Homo sapiens: one gene and its partners. The protein of the gene in region 1 purifies or fractionates together with the protein of each later gene. This does not show direct contact. Each region holds a gene or a part of one and is shown in the gene's direction. Other genes may lie near its edges.

What was found.
Region 2: the proteins of RAMP1 (region 1) and MANBA purify together in Homo sapiens (affinity purification with mass spectrometry; one large-scale study listed by BioGRID and IntAct). This does not show direct contact.
Region 3: the proteins of RAMP1 (region 1) and AGGF1 purify together in Homo sapiens (affinity purification with mass spectrometry; one large-scale study listed by BioGRID and IntAct). This does not show direct contact.
Region 4: the proteins of RAMP1 (region 1) and PACSIN2 purify together in Homo sapiens (affinity purification with mass spectrometry; one large-scale study listed by BioGRID and IntAct). This does not show direct contact.

Annotation. Positions count from the first base shown.
Region 1 is NC_000002.12:237,879,596-237,884,435, forward strand, and holds part of RAMP1 (receptor activity-modifying protein 1 isoform 1 precursor), read left to right. Parts: intron 1-4,840. UniProt on the Homo sapiens protein: Accessory protein that interacts with and modulates the function of G-protein coupled receptors including calcitonin gene-related peptide type 1 receptor (CALCRL) and calcitonin receptor (CALCR). Required for the transport of CALCRL to the plasma membrane.
Region 2 is NC_000004.12:102,725,522-102,730,361, reverse strand, and holds part of MANBA (beta-mannosidase precursor), read left to right. Parts: exon of another isoform or gene 1-2,992; coding exon of another isoform or gene 2,993-3,094; intron 3,095-3,678; coding exon 3,679-3,773; intron 3,774-4,840.
Region 3 is NC_000005.10:77,043,511-77,048,350, forward strand, and holds part of AGGF1 (angiogenic factor with G patch and FHA domains 1), read left to right. Parts: intron 1-2,836; coding exon 2,837-3,167; intron 3,168-4,650; coding exon 4,651-4,762; intron 4,763-4,840. UniProt on the Homo sapiens protein: Promotes angiogenesis and the proliferation of endothelial cells. Able to bind to endothelial cells and promote cell proliferation, suggesting that it may act in an autocrine fashion.
Region 4 is NC_000022.11:42,871,203-42,876,042, reverse strand, and holds part of PACSIN2 (protein kinase C and casein kinase substrate in neurons protein 2), read left to right. Parts: intron 1-512; exon of another isoform or gene 513-3,551; intron 3,552-3,583; exon of another isoform or gene 3,584-4,058; intron 4,059-4,539; exon of another isoform or gene 4,540-4,573; coding exon 4,574-4,686; 3' UTR 4,687-4,840.

The DNA of each region.
Region 1 (4,840 bases):
CGTCATTTAATGGGTTCAGCACACCAATATGGCACATGTATACATACGTAACAAACCTGCACGTTGTGCACATGTGCCCTAGAACTTAAAGTATTAAAAAAAAAAAAAATCTGACCGGGCACTGTGGCTCACACCTGTGATCCCAACGCTTTGGGAGGTCAAGGCGGGTGGATCAACTGAGGTCAGGAGTTCCAGACCAGCCTAGCCAACATGGTGAAACCCCATCTCTACTAAAAATATAAAAATTAGCCGGGCGTGGTAGCACACGCCTGTAATCCCAGCTACTCGGGAGGCTGAGGCAGGAGAATTGCTTGAACCCAGGAGGCGGAGGTTGCCGTGAGCCGAGATGGCGCCACTGCACTCCAGCCTGAGGGACAGAGTGAGACTTTGTCTCAAAAAAAAAAAAAAAAAAAAAATCAAGATAATTTAGGAACCAAGAAGGAAAAGTCCACATCACAACAGCATCTCAGCACGTCAGCCCAGGCCTGCCAGCCCCTGGGGTCTGCGTTTGGCAGAATGATGCCCCCCAGAGATGTCCATGCGTAATTCCTGGAACTGTCGATGTGTCACACGGCAAAGGGGATAAAGTCACAGACAGAATTGGTGACACTAATCAGGTGGCTTTGAGATGGGAGATGCGGGATCATCCCGGGGCCCGGTGCTATCACAAGGTCCCTTAGGTTGGTCCCAGCTTTGGCTACTGGAGAGCCTTCACACTGGCTTCTGTGTCCTTTCGACATTGCCCCTGGCTGTTTTTGAGCACTTTCTTTCTTTCTGGTACCACGAGATGTTCCAGGCTTATCTTAGACATTTTGTGCCCCAGCCCTGAAGTCAGCCATTTCTCCAAGGAACACTGGTTCCTTTTGTTAGAGAATGGTATCTAGAAACCAAGATATATGTGCGTATGTGTGGGTGTACACACATCCCAGGGATTTAGATGGAACCCACGGAACCATACAGGTGCTAGAAGAAAACATGGGTGAATCCCTATTTAAGCCATGGTATCGAGAAAGGCTGGGTAAAACAATATTGTTTCAAAAAATTGGCTTGCCCAATCCCAGGGCCCAGCAGGCCAGCAGGCTGGAAACTCTTGGGAGCCGACGCAGCATTCTTGAGGCAGAATTTCCGAACGTGCTGGTAAGGCCTTACCATTGGCTGGGTGAGGCCCCACCCCCAGCATCAAGGATTATCCCCTTTACTTAAAGACAACTGATGATAGATGTTAACCACATCTCCCAAATACCCCCACAGTGACCCCTAGACTAGTGTTTGACTGAGTAACTGGGCACTGTAGCCTGGCCAAGTTGGCTCATAAAGCTATAATCATCACACTGGTTCCAGGGGCAGAGGTCTCTGCGCAAAGGTGTGTTCAGACAACTGGCATTGTCCCTCCTCCTCCTGCCCCTGCCCATTTCTCTCATTCCTTTCACCCTGTTCCCACCCAATTCCTGTGGGCAACTTACCTCATCAGTTTCTGGTCTTTCTTTCCTGTATATCTTTTGCATAAATGAGCAGATGCCTGCATTTTCTTACATCCCCTTCTTTCTTATATAAAGGGTTGTATACTAGTGACACTCCTTTGTACTTTGGTTTTTCTTCACTTAACAACATAACCTGGAACTCTCTCCTTGTCAGTGCAGAGGGAGCCTCCTCCTTCATTTTTACAGCTGTATAGTACTCCGCCGTGCAGAGTCTTTCAGCCATTTTCCTTTCAGCCAGGGCAGAAGCCAAGCGAGCAGAGGCACTTAGGTTGTGGCCAGTATTTTCCCATTTCAGCATCGACGTGGATGGCCTCACGCATCCGTGTTTTCCCAGCACTGGAGCTGACTCTTCAGAATAGATACCCAGAAGTGGGGTCGCAGGACCAAAGGTGAGAGCAGGAGGAATGTGTTAGGTTTTGCAACGTCCCTCCAGAAGGCTGATGCCAGTTTGCATTCCCACCAGCAGCGTATGGGGTGCCCGTTTCCCCAGACCCACCAACAGACTGTGTTGTCGTCCATTAGAGTTGTTACTGTCTGATAAGTGAGAAGTGATGTCTCAGCAGCATGTGAGTTTGCATTTCTGTACTTAGGAGTGAATCCGAACATCTTTCGTATGTTTACAGGCCGTTCTTTTATCTTTTTGGCAAATTGTGTCTTTTCCTATTTTCTATCAGGTCGTTTTTAAAGAGTTCTTTGTATGTTAGATGGGTTAGGCCTTTGTCTCTCGTGTACATTAGAGATTTTCTCCTAGTTTGTTGGTTGTCTTTCAACTTTGTTTTTTTTTTCTTTTGGTGTTTTTGTTGCCACACAATTTTTTTAATGTGGTCAAAACCATCCATCTTTGATCGCCTCTGGATTGGAGTCCTAGTGGAAAGCCCCTCCCCACATGAAGGGAAAAGAGGGATTTGCCACGTTTTCCTCTAGCCTGTGTGGTCCCACTGGTTCCATCGAAATCCTTGGCCCATCGGAGTTTATTCCAGTTTATTCTTGTGTATGGTGTGAACTATGAATCAAATGTTATCTTTTTCTGGATGCGCTACCCACTTGTCCCATTTATGCAAACGTCCATCTCTGCTCCCCGTGACCTGAGATGCCACCTTTGTCATGCACTAAGCTTCCCTGTGCACTTGGCCCGTGCCTTCTTAAATCGTCCCTTTCCCAAACCTTCCTCATCTCACCTGAATCTCATATTGATCTATTCTCCAGAACTATCAATGGGTCCTCACCGCCTGCTGAATGTTTACCTAATTATCCCTTAACTTAGTCCAAGAAACGCGTTTACTGTAGCTGGCGTTTATTACCGCGTGCTGGGCTTTGTGTCGAGCACGTAACGTACATTGGCTTTTTGAGGTCAGCAGCAGCCTGGCGGAGGTGGGGCTGTTGTGATTGCTGCTTCACCTGCCCAGGCTCGCACAGCTGGTACCCATGGCTCCCTCCTGGTTCCCGGCGGAGGTGGAGGGATGCCCTGCCTCCATATAACTGTGGCCTCCTGAGATGGGGATGCAAGCCTTCAGGTGCTGCCTCCGTCCTGGCGATGTCCCTACCAACCTGGTGAGGTCCATCGCATTGAGACACCAAGCCTGGCAGTGGGCCAAGGGCAGCCTTCCAAGGGTCTCCAGTAGCAGCGAGGGCCTGGGGTTCTAGGGTGGGCAAGTTTGTCCAAGTAACTAGTGGAGGGGAAGAGGGCCCTGGAGAGAACACGAAGGCACAAATAGGGTGAGAGGCGCTAGGCTGCCTGCAGGCAGGCCATCACCAGGTGTGGGCAGGTGGCACTGTGTCTGTTGGATGAGCGGGACCCCAAAGTGAGGCTGACCGGCAGGCAGCCAGACAGCCAGGTGGCTGGCCTCAGGGAATGCTCCCAGCCCAAGCAGGGTCCCAGCTGGTCTCAAGGACTGTGAGCCAGGCAGGTGACCTGATGGGGGACACAGGCTCTGGGAAAGGCCCGTCTCTGAGCCAAGTGCAGTTGAGGCTTGGCAGCTGGGGCAGAAGCCAAGCAAGCAGAACCAGGCAATTATTGGGGTCTGGTATCCAAAACCAGGCTGGCATGGAGGCCAGGGGATTCTGAAGGCAGGAGCCTCTGGGCCAGAGCTGCCACATGCCTGCTGCCGCCCAAGGTCATAGCTGTCCCAGGGCCCTGGGCTGGGCCTGCAGGTATCTTGGTATATGGCAGAGGGAAGCTTCCAGACTCTTCTGAAATCAGAGGTCTCATTTAACAACAGCTGCGTGTCAAAGGGGACTCACCTTCCTATGAGCGACGTAGACAAAGGCGGCCGGCCAGCCTTTTATGGGATACACACACAGGAGTAAGTGGGGGCTGAGACATGCTCGTGCCAGCTCCTAGTGCCGGCCCAGAAGTCTTGCTTCCTCTATCAAAGCAGATGGGAAGGAGGCCCCCCGTGATCCCTGCTTTACTCAGGACGTTGAATAGAAGTAAAAAGTGAATGGAAGACTCCTCATGGCCTGGTGCAGTGGCTTTCGCCTGTAATCCCAACACTTTGGGAGGCCAAGGCAGAAGAATTACTTAAGCCCAGGAGTGTGAGAACAGCCTGGACAACAAAGTGAGACTCCATCTCTACAAAAATTTTAAAAATTAGCTGTACATGGTGTTGGACACCTGTAGACCCAGGTGCTTGGGAGGCTGAGGCGGGAGGATCACTCAAGCCTGAGAGGTCAAGGCTGCAGTGAGCCATGATGGTACCACTTGCACTCCAGCCTGGGTGATAGAACCAGACCCTACCTCAAAAAAAAAAAAAAGAAAAGAAAAGAAAAAAAAAAAAGAGGCTCCTCCTCTGCACAGGGGTCATTCCTGGGTCCCTGCCCTGGCCTGTAGGTCCACTTTTTTTTTTTTTTTTTTTTTTTTGCGCATTCAGGGTTTGTAGCCACTGCGCTTGCCCTGGGACCTTGGCTGCCCGGCATGGATCTGCACGCAGGTGCTTGCTGGGTTCCGACAGCCCTTGCCCTGACCGTGACCCCACTCCTCCGCTCATCCTGTTGCTTTGTTACCTGGTTGGTGGATTTTGTCAGGTTGTCTGTTGTGAGCAAGGCTTGGGGGTGATTCCTGAGCCCTTTCTAACACGTGTTGGGTGTCTTCCACTCAGCTACATGGAACAGGTCCCTGAAAAGTGGCTGAATGAGCTCAGCGGGGCCAGGCTCCCCTGCAAGCTGGCTGGGCCGTCATTTACCAGGGGTTATCATCTCATTAAGCTGCAGCCTTGGTTTGCTGATGGAGGCATAATGTGATTTAATGTATTAACTGGAGCTACAATCTAATTTGAGGAGGTATAGAAAACCTGGCAAATGTGTCATCGGGAACTCTCATTTCCAGAGACCTTCCTATGGGTGTAGGGGAGGGAGAGAGA
Region 2 (4,840 bases), on another chromosome or scaffold:
ACAGCCCTCCAGGTGGCACAGGGAAGGTCATGAGAAATGTGGATAAATCTAAGTTATACCCTCTTGTAAATTCCTCCGGTCATGAGACGATATGTGGTAAAGTTAACTGAAAAGACCAAGAAGCAGCTTCTCCACTCCTTCTGGGATCTCTATCTGGTTCGGCCTTCCTGCCCCCACTCCTGCCTCCACCATGTCCATCAGGGTGACCCAGAAGTCCTACAAGGTGTCCACCTCTGGGCCCCGGGCCTTCAGCAGCCACTCCTACACAAGTGGGCCCAGTGTCCAGATAAGCTCCTCAGGCTTCTCCCTAGTGGGCAGCAGCAGCTTCCAAGGTTGTCTGGGCGGAGGCTATGGTGAGGGCAGCAGCGTGGGTGGCATCACCACCATCACAGTCAACCAGAGCCTGCTGAGCCCCCTTAACCTGGAGGTGGACCCCAACATCCAGGCTGTGCGCACCCAGGAGAAGCAGCAGATCAAGACCCTCAACAACAAGTTTGCCTCCTTCATAGACAAGGTATGGTTCCTGGAGCAGTAGAACAAGATGCTGGAGACTAAGTGGAGCCTCCTGCAGCAGCAGAAGATGGCTCAGAGCAACATGGACAACATGTTCCAGAGCTACATCAACAACCTTAGGCAGCAGCTGAAGACTCTGGGCCAGGAGAAGCTGAAGCTGGAGGCGGAGCTTGGCAACATGCCCGGGCTGGTGGAGGACTTCAAGAACAAGTATGAGGATGAGATCAATAAGTGTACAGAGGTGGAGAATGAATTTGTCCTCATCAAGAGGATGTGGATGAAGGTTACATGAACAAGGTAGAGCTGGAGTCTCACCTGGAAGGGCTGACTGACGAGATCAATTTCCTCAAGCAGCTGTATGAAGAGGAGATCCAGGAGCTGCAGTCCCAGATCTCGGACACATCTGTGGTGCTGCCCATGGACAACAGCCGCTCCCTGGGCATGAACAGCATCATCGCTGAGGTCAAGGCACCATACGAGGAGATCGCCAACTGCAGCCAGGCCAAGGCTGAGAGCATGTACCAGATCAAGGATGAGGAGCTGCAGATGCTGGCTGGGAAGCACGAGGATGACCTGCAGTGTACAAAGACTGAGATTTCTGAGATGAACCGGAACATCAGCCAGCTCCAGGCTGAGACTGAGGGCCTCAAAGGCCAGAGGGCTTCCCTGGAGGGCACCATCACAGATGTCTGCAGCACAGGGGGCTGGCTGTTAAGGATGCCAACGCCAAGCTGTCCAAGCTGGAGGCCGCCCTGCAGCAGGCCAAGCAGGACATGGCATGGCAACTGCTTGAGTACCAGGAACTGATGAACATCAAGCTGGCCCTGGACATCGAGATAGCCACCTACAGGAAGCTGCTGGAGGGCGAGGAGAGCCAGCTGGACTCTGGGATGCAGAACATGAGTATCCATACAAAGACCACCAGTGGTTATGCAGGTGATCTGAGCTCGGCCTGTGGGGGCCTCCCAAGCCCCAGCTTTGGCTCTGGTGTGGGCTCCAGCTCCTTCAGCCGCACCAGCACCACCAGGGCAGTGGTTGTGAAGAAGATCGAGACCCATGATGGGAGGCTGGTGTCCTAGTCCTCTGACGTCCTGCCCAAGTGAACAGCTGCGGCAGCCCCTCCCAGCCTGCCCCTCCTGCGACTCTCCCAGAGAGCAGAAGGGAGCACAGGGAACGTGAGACCCACCTGAGGCCCAGCCCTAGCCCTCAACCCACCCACAGGGTAGTTTACTACCTGGGGACCCCCCATGCCTATGCCTTCAGCTACAAAACAATTCAATTGCTTTTTTTTTTTGGTCCAAAATAAAACCTCTGCTAGCTCTGCCAACAGCTAACCTTATAGTTACCTGTTTTTTTCAAATGTGAAAGATGGGTATTCCGAAAAACCATACAAAGAGTCCCTCTCTTCAATCTGCATCCAAAAACTCATGAAATTAGAAACTGTCCAACCACAGGAAAACAGCCTGGCTAAGATTCAAAGTGTAGGCAAAAGCCTGCAGAGAGTGAACAGAATCCTCATGGGCCCAAGGAGCATCCAGAAAAGTCACTTCAAAGAGGTGGGAAAGCAGAGCAACAGGAAGGAACAGGGTGCCTGGGCATTTGTGGAGAATGCTGCCAAAGAAAAAAGGCTCAGGAGTCCAGCCCCAAGGGAGCTGGAACAGCCTCACATAGAGCAGGGGCATGAGAAGTTAGCAGGAAACGCCATCTATACCAAGCCTTCGTTCAACCAAGAGCATAAGGCAGCAGTCTTCTCTTTGCTGAAACCCTTCTCCATGGGCGTGCCTTCTATCTCCACCCCTGCAAAAGCCCTACCTGTGGTCAGAAACAGATTGAAAGACTTACCCATTTTGGTTTTAGAAAATGCAAAGTTGAGTTAAAACCAATCGTACATTCCAGAAAAGTTCTCTCAGTAGACTTTGCTTGCAAAGAGGCCTCCATTCTCTGCAGTGAAAAGCCTCATAAATGCCCCTTCACAAGGGGCTTTTTCATCTTTAGGAGACCTGAGTCTTCAGGAAAATCCTTTTCCGGAAGTATTTCTCCATCAGAATGTTTTAAAAGCACCACTGCAAGAAATGCCTTTGAACAAAACATTTTTATGGAAAACACTACTATGCCAGAAGGCACCATCTCTGAAAACACAACCTACAACCATCCTCCTGAGGGAGATTCTGCTGAGACTGCGTTCAACTTAGAGAAGACTGTGAAACACAATGGGAATACAACAACATGGGCACTGGCCTGTCTCCCGAGCCCAAAAGCTTCAATTACCCATTGCTCTCGTCCCCAGGTGATCAGTTTGAAATTCAGCTAAACCAGCAGCTACGGCCCCTCATCCCCAATAATGATGTGAGAAGACTCATTTCTCATGTTATCTGGACCTTGAAGATGGAGTGCTCTGAGACCCATGTGCAATTGGCCTATACCAAGCTCATCTCCAGGACAGGCCTCCTGATTCATCAGTGAGCAGCAAGAAGTAAAGATGTCCAAGGCAGAATGGGATACAGACCAATGGAAAACTGAGAACTATATCAATGAGAGCACGGAAGCCCAGAGCAAACAGAAAGAGCAGAAGTCAAGTGAGGTGAGGACCACACAGAAACATGAAACCCAGATTTTCCTATCATTTAGCATCTTCCAGGAAAGTGCCCACACAGGAGAACCTGGGACTCCCAGACCATAGTTTGTCTTGGCCATGTAACTTCAGCCGTGACAGTGATCTCCCACTTTGCTCATTTAGAGAGTGAAACAGGTTAGTACACAAGATAAACTGTAGGCCGGACATGATGGCTCATGCCTGTAATCCTAGCACTTTGGGAGGCTGAGGTAGGTGGATCACTTGAGGTCAGGAGTTTGAGACCAGCTTGGCCAACATGGTGAAACCCTGTCTCCAAGGGGAAGCCAATCTTAATGCCCACCAATTTTCTTTGATAATGAAGCTGTATTATTTATATCTCAGAGGATTATTTCATTTCAGGTAATTTGTTGGAATTTTCCCTTCACATTTTTCAGTATTAACGATCTGTCCCCTCTTTGTACTACTAGGCTAAAAGTTCGTTAATTTTTAGGTGATAAATAGCTGTTGTTAATAATTTATTTTATGTTTGTTTTATTAATTTATTTGTGCATATTTAACCATCTACCATAATTTTTACCTTGTATCAACAGGATTCTTACTACAGATTTAATGACCTTAACTACAGATGGGTCTCTTTGGATAACTGGACCTATAGCAAAGAATTTAAAATCCCCTTTGAAATTAGGTATGTATGTTTGTGGGTGTATTTTTATTATTATTTGAACTTTTCTTCTTTTTCTATCTGGGCAAAAATGTTGTGTTTTGTTTGTTTTTTTTTTGTTTTGTATGTTTTGTTTTGTTTTGTTTGTTTAGGTTACATATCTGAGAGTTAAGTAAGATGAAAGCCTTGTACTATAAAAGTGAATATATTATTTATGTTTTGTTTTGTATATGAGGATGGTGCTACTAATCAACAGTCACCAAATTGTGTCTTATGGAGTCATTTTTCCAGTGGTTATGCCCTATGTAGTGCTAACCAGCCATTGAGACTATGACCTTGACCTATACTATGTGGTGAAGCCAGGAGGTGAAGCACAGATACTGTTTTCAGTAATGTTCTGTTATTATAAGCAAATATTTCCATATGAGGTAGAATGTTACCCAAAGGTACCACCACTACTGCTAAATGAAAAAAAAAATCCTTCTGTCCCTTTTATGTGATTTTTTTTTTTTGGTAATTATTTACTAGTCTTTTAAAGGGGGGAAAAGGCCAGAATATTGTTATCAATATCATGGAGTTACTGCTGTGCTCCAGGCTTTTATTTACAGATAATATTTAGAATATCTTTCGTAATGGTTCTATTTCACCTTGAACTCAACATATCCAATTGATTTTCCCCCTTAAAACTAACTTTATATTCTAACAGCTTCATTGTTTTTCTTGATGTAACACCATTTTCCAGTCTATGTCTAAGGTGCTTTGGGCTTATTACATCTTTTCTTCATCTTCCTGTGTTCAGTCTGTTCTGGGTGGGTCTTGCAAATTTTTGTTTAACATTTCTCTTGGTTTGGCCCCTTCCATCTCATTTCCATCTTTCCATCTTTGCCTAGAAGAGTGCCAGGAAAGAGGCCAAAGCTGCCTAATCAAATTTCTTGCTTTGTTCTTTTATTCTCCAATCTTTTCAATTTAGAAACATTAGATTAATCATCACAGAATATTGATTGTGCCAAGATAGGTATTCGTTCAAGAATAGCAAGTGTCTATTTTACTTGGCAAATCAAGTATAAACTTCTCACTTGTCTGTGAAAATA
Region 3 (4,840 bases), on another chromosome or scaffold:
CGGGGCGGCTGGCCGGGCGGGGGGCTGACCCCCCCACCTCCCTCCCGGACGGCACGGCTGGCCAGGCGGGGGGCTGACCCCCCCCCCCCCGGATGGCACGGCTGGCCGGGCGGGGGGGCTGACCCCCCACCTCCCTCCCGGATGGGGCGGCTGGCCGGGCGGGGGGCTGATCCCCCCCACCTCCCTCCCGGACGGGGTGGCTGCCGGGCGGAGACGCTCCTCACTTCCCAGATGGGGTGGCTGCCGGGCGGAGAGGCTCCTCACTTCTCAGAGTGGGCAGCTGCCGGGCGGAGGGGCTCCTCACTTCTCAGACGGGGTGGTTGCCAGGCAGAGGGTCTCCTCACTTCTCAGACGGGGCGGCCGGGCAGAGACGCTCGTCACCTCCCAGACGGGGTCTCGGCCGGGCAGAGGCGCTCCTCACATCCCAGATGGGGCGGCGGGGCAGAGGCGCTCCCCACATCTCAGACAATGGGCGGCCGGGCAGAGACGCTCCTCACTTCCTAGATGTGATGGCGGCTGGGAAGAGACGCTCCTCACTTCCTAGATGGGATGGCGGCCGGGCGGAGACGCTCCTCACTTTCCAGACTGGGCAGCCAGGCAGAGGGGCTCCTCACATCCCAGACGATGGGCGGCCAGGCAGAGACACTCCTCACTTCCCAGACAGGGTGGCGGCCGGGCAGAGGCTGCAATCTCGGCACTTTGGGAGGCCAGGGCAGGCGGCTGGGAGGTGTAGGTTGTAGTGAGCCGAGATCACGCCACTGCACTCCAGCCTGGGCACCATTGAGCACTCGACAAGAACTTTTAAGAAAAATCCTGTTGGAATTTTGAGAATTTCCTGAGGATTCTAAAAGGTACCTGTGAGGCCAAGAGAGTATCTTCATCTGTTTTCTTTATTTTTAAAGATATTTTTGAGCCTCACTTTTTGTAGGTGAAGGTTATGTGGAAGGAAGACAGTAGGGGAGATAGGAGTAAATAATTTGAAATATACATATGTGCCTCAGTGCCCATAAATAAGCCCTCCTTTCTTTTCACTTAATGACTATCTAATGTTCTGTACTGGCAAATAGCTTTCCCTGCATATGTTGTTCAGTAAGTAATAAATATACAAGATTGGAAACTGCTTTTTTAAGAGTATATACAGATAGGGAACTTTTTTGCTATAATTTTATAATGTAAAAGCTCCTCATGGTTTTTCAGCTCCTTGCCCTTGTTCTTGTTCTGGGTGAATTTGTATTGCTAGAAGTGTGTATAATTTATCACACTGTGAATGTTTAGCCAGTCTCCAAGCTGAACTTACGCTGTTATCAAAGATAGGTATGTGAGGTGGATGGATCATGAGGTCAAGAGATCGAGACCAGTCTGGCCAACATGGTGAAACCCCATCTCTACTAAAAATAAAAAAATTACCTGGGTATGGTGGTGCGCATGCCTGTAGTCCCAGCTACTCGGGAGGCTGAGGCAGTAGAATCTCTTGAACCTGGGAGGTGGAGGTTGGAGCGAGCCGAGATCGCGCCACTGCACTCCAGCCTGGGCGACAGAGCGAGACTCCGTCTCAAAAAAAAAAAAAAAGAAAGAAAGGTGTGTGAGATGCTCTCATATTTTATAAAATAACAGAAGAGCATATGAATTCGCCTCATGTTGCTCTGAGGTAGAAAGAAAAGTGAGAGTGCGTTAGAAACCAAGGGAAAAAAATGGAAAATAATTATTTACTTTTTCTAAGGCTGAAATGATAGATTTGACCATTGTATAACACGGTGACTATTGTTAATAACAATGTGTTGTATTATTGCAAACTGCTGAGAGCAAATTTTAAGTTTCTTACCACAGAAAAATAAGTATTTGAGGTAATGTACATGTTAATTAGCTCAATTTAACCACTGTACATTGTGTACGTATTTCAAAACTTCATGTTGTACATGATAAAAATACATCATTTTTGTTAATTAAAAAATGTTCATTTATTATAAGGCATATCAACTATAAATGTACAATAAATAATAAAAGACTTATGCCAGGCAAGTTAAAATTTTGGAATAAGATAGTCACAGTTAATTTGTACTTTAAACTTTTATGTATTATCAAGCTGAATCTGAAGTACTAAATTTTAGCAAAACTACAATTTTGCTACATATTGAGTACATTTGGATCTTTAAATTCATGTCATAAGTAAAGCTAATTCTGTATTTTATTTGTGTTGACTAGCTAATTGATTACCAGTTTAAAAAGAAAATTTAGAATAGGTATTCTTTAGGCCTGCACTATCCAGTAAGGTAGCCAGCAGCTCCATGTGGCTGTTGAGCACTTGAAGTTTTGCTAATCCAAACTCAAATGTGCTGTTAAGTGTAAAATACACTCTGGATGTTGCAGACTATGTAAACTATCTCATTAATAATTTTACTTTTTAAATGTGGCTACTAGAAAATGTAAAAGTACAAATATGGTTTGTGTTACATTTTTATTGGACACCATTGGTCTAGGCTATCCCATAGTCCAGGCAGTATGTGATGAGGGCCTGAACTAGGAATGTTAAGACATTGAGAATAGAGAGACAGATTTGGATATATTTTGAGAAAAGTCTGTAGCACTTCGTAATTTTATATATGGTTAAGGGGATCTCAGAGATAACTATAGGATTTTTAATTTGGATAATAAGAAGATGGTAATATCATTAACCAAGAAAGGAAATGTGAGAAGGAGAGGGGGAACAGATTGTAACCATTGTTATTTTACTGACACATATCTTCACGAATTCGTTGAAACTTGATGTAATGTTATAAGATAGTGATGTTTAAGAGTATTCTCCCCTGTTCCCTCGTATCTACCCACCCTTCTCCAGGATTTGAACTCAGAGGATCAAAAAGCCTTCAGTGTTGAACATACAAGCTGCAATGAGGAAGAAAATTTCGCAAATATGAAAAAGAAGGCCAAAATAGGCATTCATCACAAAAATAGTCCCCCCAAAGTCACTGTTCCAACTAGTGGAAATACTATAGAGTCTCCTCTTCATGAAAACATCTCTAATTCAACATCATTTAAAGATGAGAAAATCATGGAGACTGATAGTGAACCAGAGGAAGGTGAAATTACAGACTCTCAGACTGAGGATAGTTATGACGAAGCCATTACCAGTGAAGGCAATGTAACTGCAGAAGATAGTGAGGATGAAGGTGAGTAAATAATCATTATTTAAGTAAATAGCCCAGTCTGGTAACTATAAAAGAGCAAAACCATTAAAAATGTTAGTGAGTTGTAGTATATCTGCCAGAAAGTAAACATTATTTTAATGATGTTATTGAAAATGTTGTGGGTTGCCACTTGGTTATTCTTAGAGAGTAGGATGTGAATAAATGACTAATACTTAGACCTTCAGAAGGTTTCATTGTATTGAATGGCATAGTCAGTAGAATACAAAGCCAGGTTACCTGGATTCTAATCTTAAAATATAGATTAAGGCTGTTTTAGTGGGTTAGATATTTGTAGTCTACTTTTGTAACTGAGAGAGAAAAACAAGTTGTCTTTAAAAAGTATACATTATGAATTCAGCTACATGGATATTATGGTAAATCTAATTTTTTTTTACTTGAATATATAAAGACATACTTTTAAAACACAGGATTTCATATTACAGTTGGCCTTCTGTATCCATGGGTTCTACTTTAGTGGATTCAAGCAACCTCAGATCAAAAATATTCAGGGAAAAAAATGGATAGCTACATCTGTACTGAACATGTACACACTTTTTTTCTTGTTATTGTCCCCTAAATATGGTGTACCTATTTATATAGCATTTACATTGTATTAGGTGTAAGTAATCTAGAGATGATTTAAGTTATACAGAAGGATGCACATAAGTTATATGCAAATACGATACAATTTATATAAGGACTTGAACATCCATAGATTTTGGCATATGAGGAGGGATCTTGGAACTAATCCCCCACAGATACCGAGGGCCAACTGTGTAGTATATGAGCTTACTTTGTTCTTTGGTTCTCAATGGCATTTCTCTTGCATTTTTTTTGAGACAGAGCCTTGCTCTATTGCCCAGGCTGGAGTGCAGTGGCGCAGTCTCGGCTTACTGTAACCTCCGCCTCCTGGGTTCAAGTGATTCTCTTGCCTCAGCCTCCCAAGTTGCTGGGACTACAGGCGCATGTCACCACGCACACCCAGCTAATTTTTGTATTTTTAGTAGAGACAGGGTTTGACCATGTTGGCCAGGGTGGTCTTGAACTCCTGACCTCAGGTGATCTGCCTGCGTCGGCCCCCCAAAGTGCTGGGATTATAGGTGTGGACCACTGTGCCTGGCCTTTTTTTTTTTTTTTTTAATGGACTCAATTTTTATAACTTAAAATAATATAAAAATATTTGGGATTTTTTCAGATTCTGAAACCTTAAAAAAGAAAGAGTTGATTATTTGATAACTGTGATAGATGCTAAATATGCAGCAACCTTTATGTGGATCACTTTAATAACAGTGTTAAGCCTTACCCATTGCTGCGTATTATACAGCAGAATTTAAGAAGTTTGTTTTAGTCAGAATTAAGATTTTTGACCAACACATTTTTATTTTATGGATGCCTCCTAGTTATCCCTATGAAGTTCTTTTTCATAGTAGTTAAATTAATATTTACTCACTTCTTTCCTTGGCAGATGAAGACAAAATTTGGCCCCCATGTATTAGAGTAATTGTCATTAGATCACCTGTGTTGCAGATAGGATCACTCTTTATCATTACTGCTGTAAACCCTGCTACAATTGGAAGGTAAAATGGTTAATATTATTATATCATTCTTTCAGTTATTTCAGAAAGGCTTTATTAAGAGCATGTATTTTTGTTTGT
Region 4 (4,840 bases), on another chromosome or scaffold:
CTAGTTTCACTTGTGAGTCACTGCAGGCCCTTCCCCAGTGCCCTGGCTTCATTGTCAAAAGCAGCCAATTGGCTGGATGTGGTGGCTCATGCCTATAGTCCCAGAGCTTTGGGAGGCCGAGGTGGAAGGATCGCTTGAGCCCAGGAGTATGAGACCAACCTGGGCAAAATGGCAAAACCTGTCTCTACAAAAAATACAAAAAATTAGGCCAGGCATGGTGGCTCACGCCTGTAATCCCAGCACCTTTGGGAGGCCAAGGCAGGCAGATCACTTGAGGTCAGGAGTTCGAGCCCAGCCTAACCAACATGGTGAAACCCTGTCTCTACTAAAAATACAAAAATGAGCCAGGCGTGTGGCGGGGCATCTATAATCACAGTTACTCAGGAGGCTGCGGCAGGAGAATCACTTGAACCTGGGAGGTGGAGGTTGCAGTGAGCCAAGGTCACACCACTGTACCCCAGGCTGGGTGACAGAGCAAGACTTTGTGTCAAAAAAAAAAAATTAGCTGGGCTAATTTTAGTGGCACATGCCTGTAGTCCCAGCTCTCTGGGAGGCTGAGGTGGGAGGATCACCTGAGCCCAGTAGATTGAGGTTGCAATGAATCATGATTGTACCACTATACTCCAACCTGGACAACAGAGCGAGACCCTGTCGCAAACAAACAAACAAATAAATAACCTGGGCAACAGAGCGAGATCCTGTCTCAAATAAATAAACAAACAAAAGTAGCAGATTAGCTGGGCGTGGTGTTGCATACCTATAGTCCCAGCTGCTTGGGAGGCTGAGGCAGAGGATCACTTAAACCCAAGAGGATACAGTGAGCCATGTTCATACCACGTACTCTAGCCTAGAAGAGAGAGCAAGACCCCATCTCTTAAAAAAAAAAAAAAGTAGGCTGGGCATGGTGGCTCACGCCTGTAATCCCAGCACTTTGGGAGGCCGAGGCACACAGATCACGAGGTCAGGAGATTGAGACCATCCTGGCTAAGAGTGTGAAACCCCGTCTCTACTAAAAATACAAAAAATTAGCCGGGCGTGGTGGCAGCCGCCTGTAGTCCCAGCTACTCGGGAGGCTGACGCAGGAAAATTGCTTGAACCCGGGAGGCGGAGCTTGCAGTGAGCCGAGATTGCGCCACTGCACTCCAGCCTGGGCGACAGAGCAAAACTCTTTTTCAAAAAAAAAAAAAAAAGCGGATGCCCAATGCCAAGACTCAGAAATAGTGAGGTGCTGCCAAGCCAGTGCCTGGACTCCTCACCTTGCTGGGCCAAGGCTGTGAATTGCAGGGCACTGGCTAGTCACACAGAAGGGCATCTGGAGAAGCTGTTGGCCAGGACCACCAGGTTCCCCCATATGTAGTCTGGGAGCTGCTAGCCCCGCAGGGCCATGAGAGAAGCCTTTCTCTAGGGGTCCCCAACTGCCAGAGAAGCCCTCAGGAGAGCCACAGCTTTGCCCAGACCCCAGAGTAGCACTTGGCATGCCCCTGGGCCAGGTGGGGCCTTGTCTCAGGCAGCAACTTGTGTGTGTGCACACCTACCTGCCCACACCTACCATGCACACACCAACCCACACACATATCTGTGTTGCTAGGAGCAGAAACCATAGTTTTATAAAACAGCCTGGATCCTGATTACATGTGCTCTGCCTGTGAAGACTTTCTGTGCAATGTCTTTTTCTTCTTTGAATGGTCTTCAATGATAATCTTTTTTTTTTTTTTTTTTAATAGAGACACGGTCTCACTCTGTTAGCCAAGCTGGGTTACAGTGGTGCGATCATAGCTCACAGCAGCTGCAGCCTTGATCTCCTGGGCTCAAGCAGTCCTCCCACCTCAGCCTCCTACGTAGCTGGGACCACAGATGTGTGCTACCACCCCACCCACTATAGGAATCTTTTTTAATGCATTTGCAGTTTACCAAAATGGCTTTTCACATCTTCAATTTGAAAAGTGTTATCTTGTCCGGGCACGATGGCTCACACCTGTAATCCCAGCACTTTGCGAGGCCAAGGCCGAAGGATCACTTGAGGTCAGGAGTTTGAGACCAGCCTGGCCAACATGGTGAAACCCTGCCTCTATTAAAAAATAAAAAAATTATTCAGGCATGGTGGCACACACCTGTAATCCCAGCTACTGGGGAGGCCAAGAGAATCACTTGAACCTGGGAGGTGGAGGTTGCAGTGAGCTGAGATCATACCACTGCACTCCAGCCTGGGTGATGGAGTGACACTCTGTCTCAAAAAAAAAAAAAGGAAAGAAAATTGCTATCTTAGCACCTAAGGAAGCTGGAGTGGCCTAGGGCCAAAGTGGACCCACAGCAACCCAGATTCTTCCCTCTCTTGCCCTCTTTGTGAAGCTCCCCCAGAAGCAGCATCTACCACTCCAAGAGGGAAGCTGGGCCAGAACTCAACCCACACAGGCTGAAGTGTGCCCTTGCCCCTAGGCTACACTTGTGGGAAAGGCTGCCTTACCACCACCACCCCAACCCCTGACTCAGCAGGGAAGCCAGGGCCTGGGGGCTGTGCCCAATGGCCTAGCTTCTAACCAGTCTTCAGCCTCCTCCCCTCAGCACCCAGAGTGCCAGCCTGCTGTCCCCAGACACTCTTCCCCTGGGCTGGTTATCAGCTGCCTCTGCCCAGTTTGAGAAGTTGGGTTTTTTTGTTTTTTTGGATTTTTTTTTAATGTGCCTTTAAGCCATCTTCATCCAGTTTCTGATATCTTTGGTTGGGGTTGTTACCCCCGACTTTGTTGGTTTATTTGTTTATAATTTCTAACTCCTTTTCAATCCTGCCTATTGGGTTTGACAGTAATTTTGTAGATTTAAAATGTTTCTTCCAGATCCAAGTAAATTGTCAAAAGCAAACTGATTGAAATGAACCTTCTAATCACCAGTTCACATTTGCACAATGTGAAAGCTTTCCTGTCCGTTCTATTTTCTGTGTTATCCTGCTTTTTAACAATGCAAAATTAGCTCCCAGCCAGTGTGGCTTGACTTACGTCTCTTGCGGTGTTCTGGCTGTTTGCCACATGGTAGTGTGGGGTTACAGGCCTCATCCTAGCCTCGGTAGCCTGGATCCAGGCCTGTGAGAGCACAGCAACCAATGAAGGCAGGACAAAAGAAACGCCAGGGGCCCGAGGCACGAAGCGGTGGAAAGAGATGGTGGTTCATCGTGGCTGCTGCCCTGTGGCCCCTGCATCTGCTCCTGATGCCTCTGGGTTAGATCTGCAGGCGCACTGGTCTGGCAGAAGCGGCACGACAGTGGGAGGCTGAGCCAGTGCTTACGCATGTCCCACCCTCCCAGGGTTCTTTAGTGTCTTAACACTTAATCTTCACAGTACCCCCAGTCCACAGATGAGGGCCACAGGCCCAGGGAGTGGACGCAGTTGGTCCAGGTCTCCCAGCCAGTGAGTGATGGCTGTGGGATTTGAGCCCAGGCAGTCCGGGGAGCACTGGAAGCCCCAGGTATTAGCTCCGCAGGCATGTTGACCAGCATTGCTGCCATACAAAATCCAAAGCATCAGGGAAATGCTAAACCAGGGGGAAAACTGCATCTAATTCTGAAAAATGGACCAAAAAATGCCAAAGAGAGTTACAAAACTTCAAACTTAGCAATAAAGGCAAAACAGCACTGGGACTATTTCTTTCCCACCAATTGCTTGCTCCTGACGAGGTCCGAGCCAGCAGGCCCAACTGGCCTTCCCTGCAGTGAGTTACCAACCAGAAGCACACAGGCCCCTGCCCACCCCTGGGCTCTGAGCTGCTCTGCTTCCCTAACCTGGCAAATGCCAGACCTGGGGCCCTACCCTAGTGCCACCTCCCCCTCACCACCCTAGTCTGCCTCCTTGAGACCAGGATCCATCAGTTCCTCTCATCTCTGTATCTCCTCTTCTACCCAAGGCCTGGCCAGAAGTAGGAGGTCCTTCAGGTTGGAACAACCAAAGATAAATGGAACCACGTTAATACATTAGAGCCACAGGGAGATTCCAGAACAGCGCCAGGGGCTCCTTCTCAGGGTCTCAGGAAGGGTTGACACATGGCACCGTGCACAAGTCATCAGCCAGGTGCTGGGGATAAAATGACAGGTATGACTGTCAGACATGGTCCCTTCCCCTCGCAGCCTGGAAGTTGCAGAGGAGAGGGATTAGCAAAGGCAGAGAGACCCCAGAGACAGCTGCTGGGAGCAAGGCGGCCGGGGCCCTGGGGAGGGGACAGAAGAGGCCCAACGTGAGGGAGGGGCACAACCGAGGGACGATTCCTGCCACCTGGCCAGGGTGGTGAGGAAGGCACAGCCCTATGGAGCTGGATGCCGCAGTCTCAGTGGGAGCCACTGTGGCAGCTGAGAGCAGCTTGTTCCAAATTACTGTGTGAGACTGTCATCTCTAGGTCTGTCAGAGGCCCATGACCAAAGAGGCAACTTAAAATGCATGCATTTAGTAGAGAAATGACCAGGCCCTCGGCCTGCCCGCCACAGAATGCCTGGCCCTCCACCCTCTGTGGGCTCAAAGCTCGTGAATGCGGCTCTGTAGCCCACCGTCGGTGTCATACCTCTCATGGAGACGGCTCCCTCTTTGTCTTGCAGGGGATGAGCTGACCAAGATGGAGGACGAGGATGAGCAGGGCTGGTGCAAGGGACGCTTGGACAACGGGCAAGTTGGCCTATACCCGGCAAATTATGTGGAGGCGATCCAGTGATGAGTCGGGGACAGGCCAGCGGGGGGACGGAGGCGGCGGGCCCAGGAGCCTCAGCCAGCCACGTGGGCATCCACTCCTTTTCCTGCAAGAGATGATGGTTCCATTGCTCTTGGCTTCATGGTGTTCCTGGAAGGCAGATGAGCTGGTCATTTCG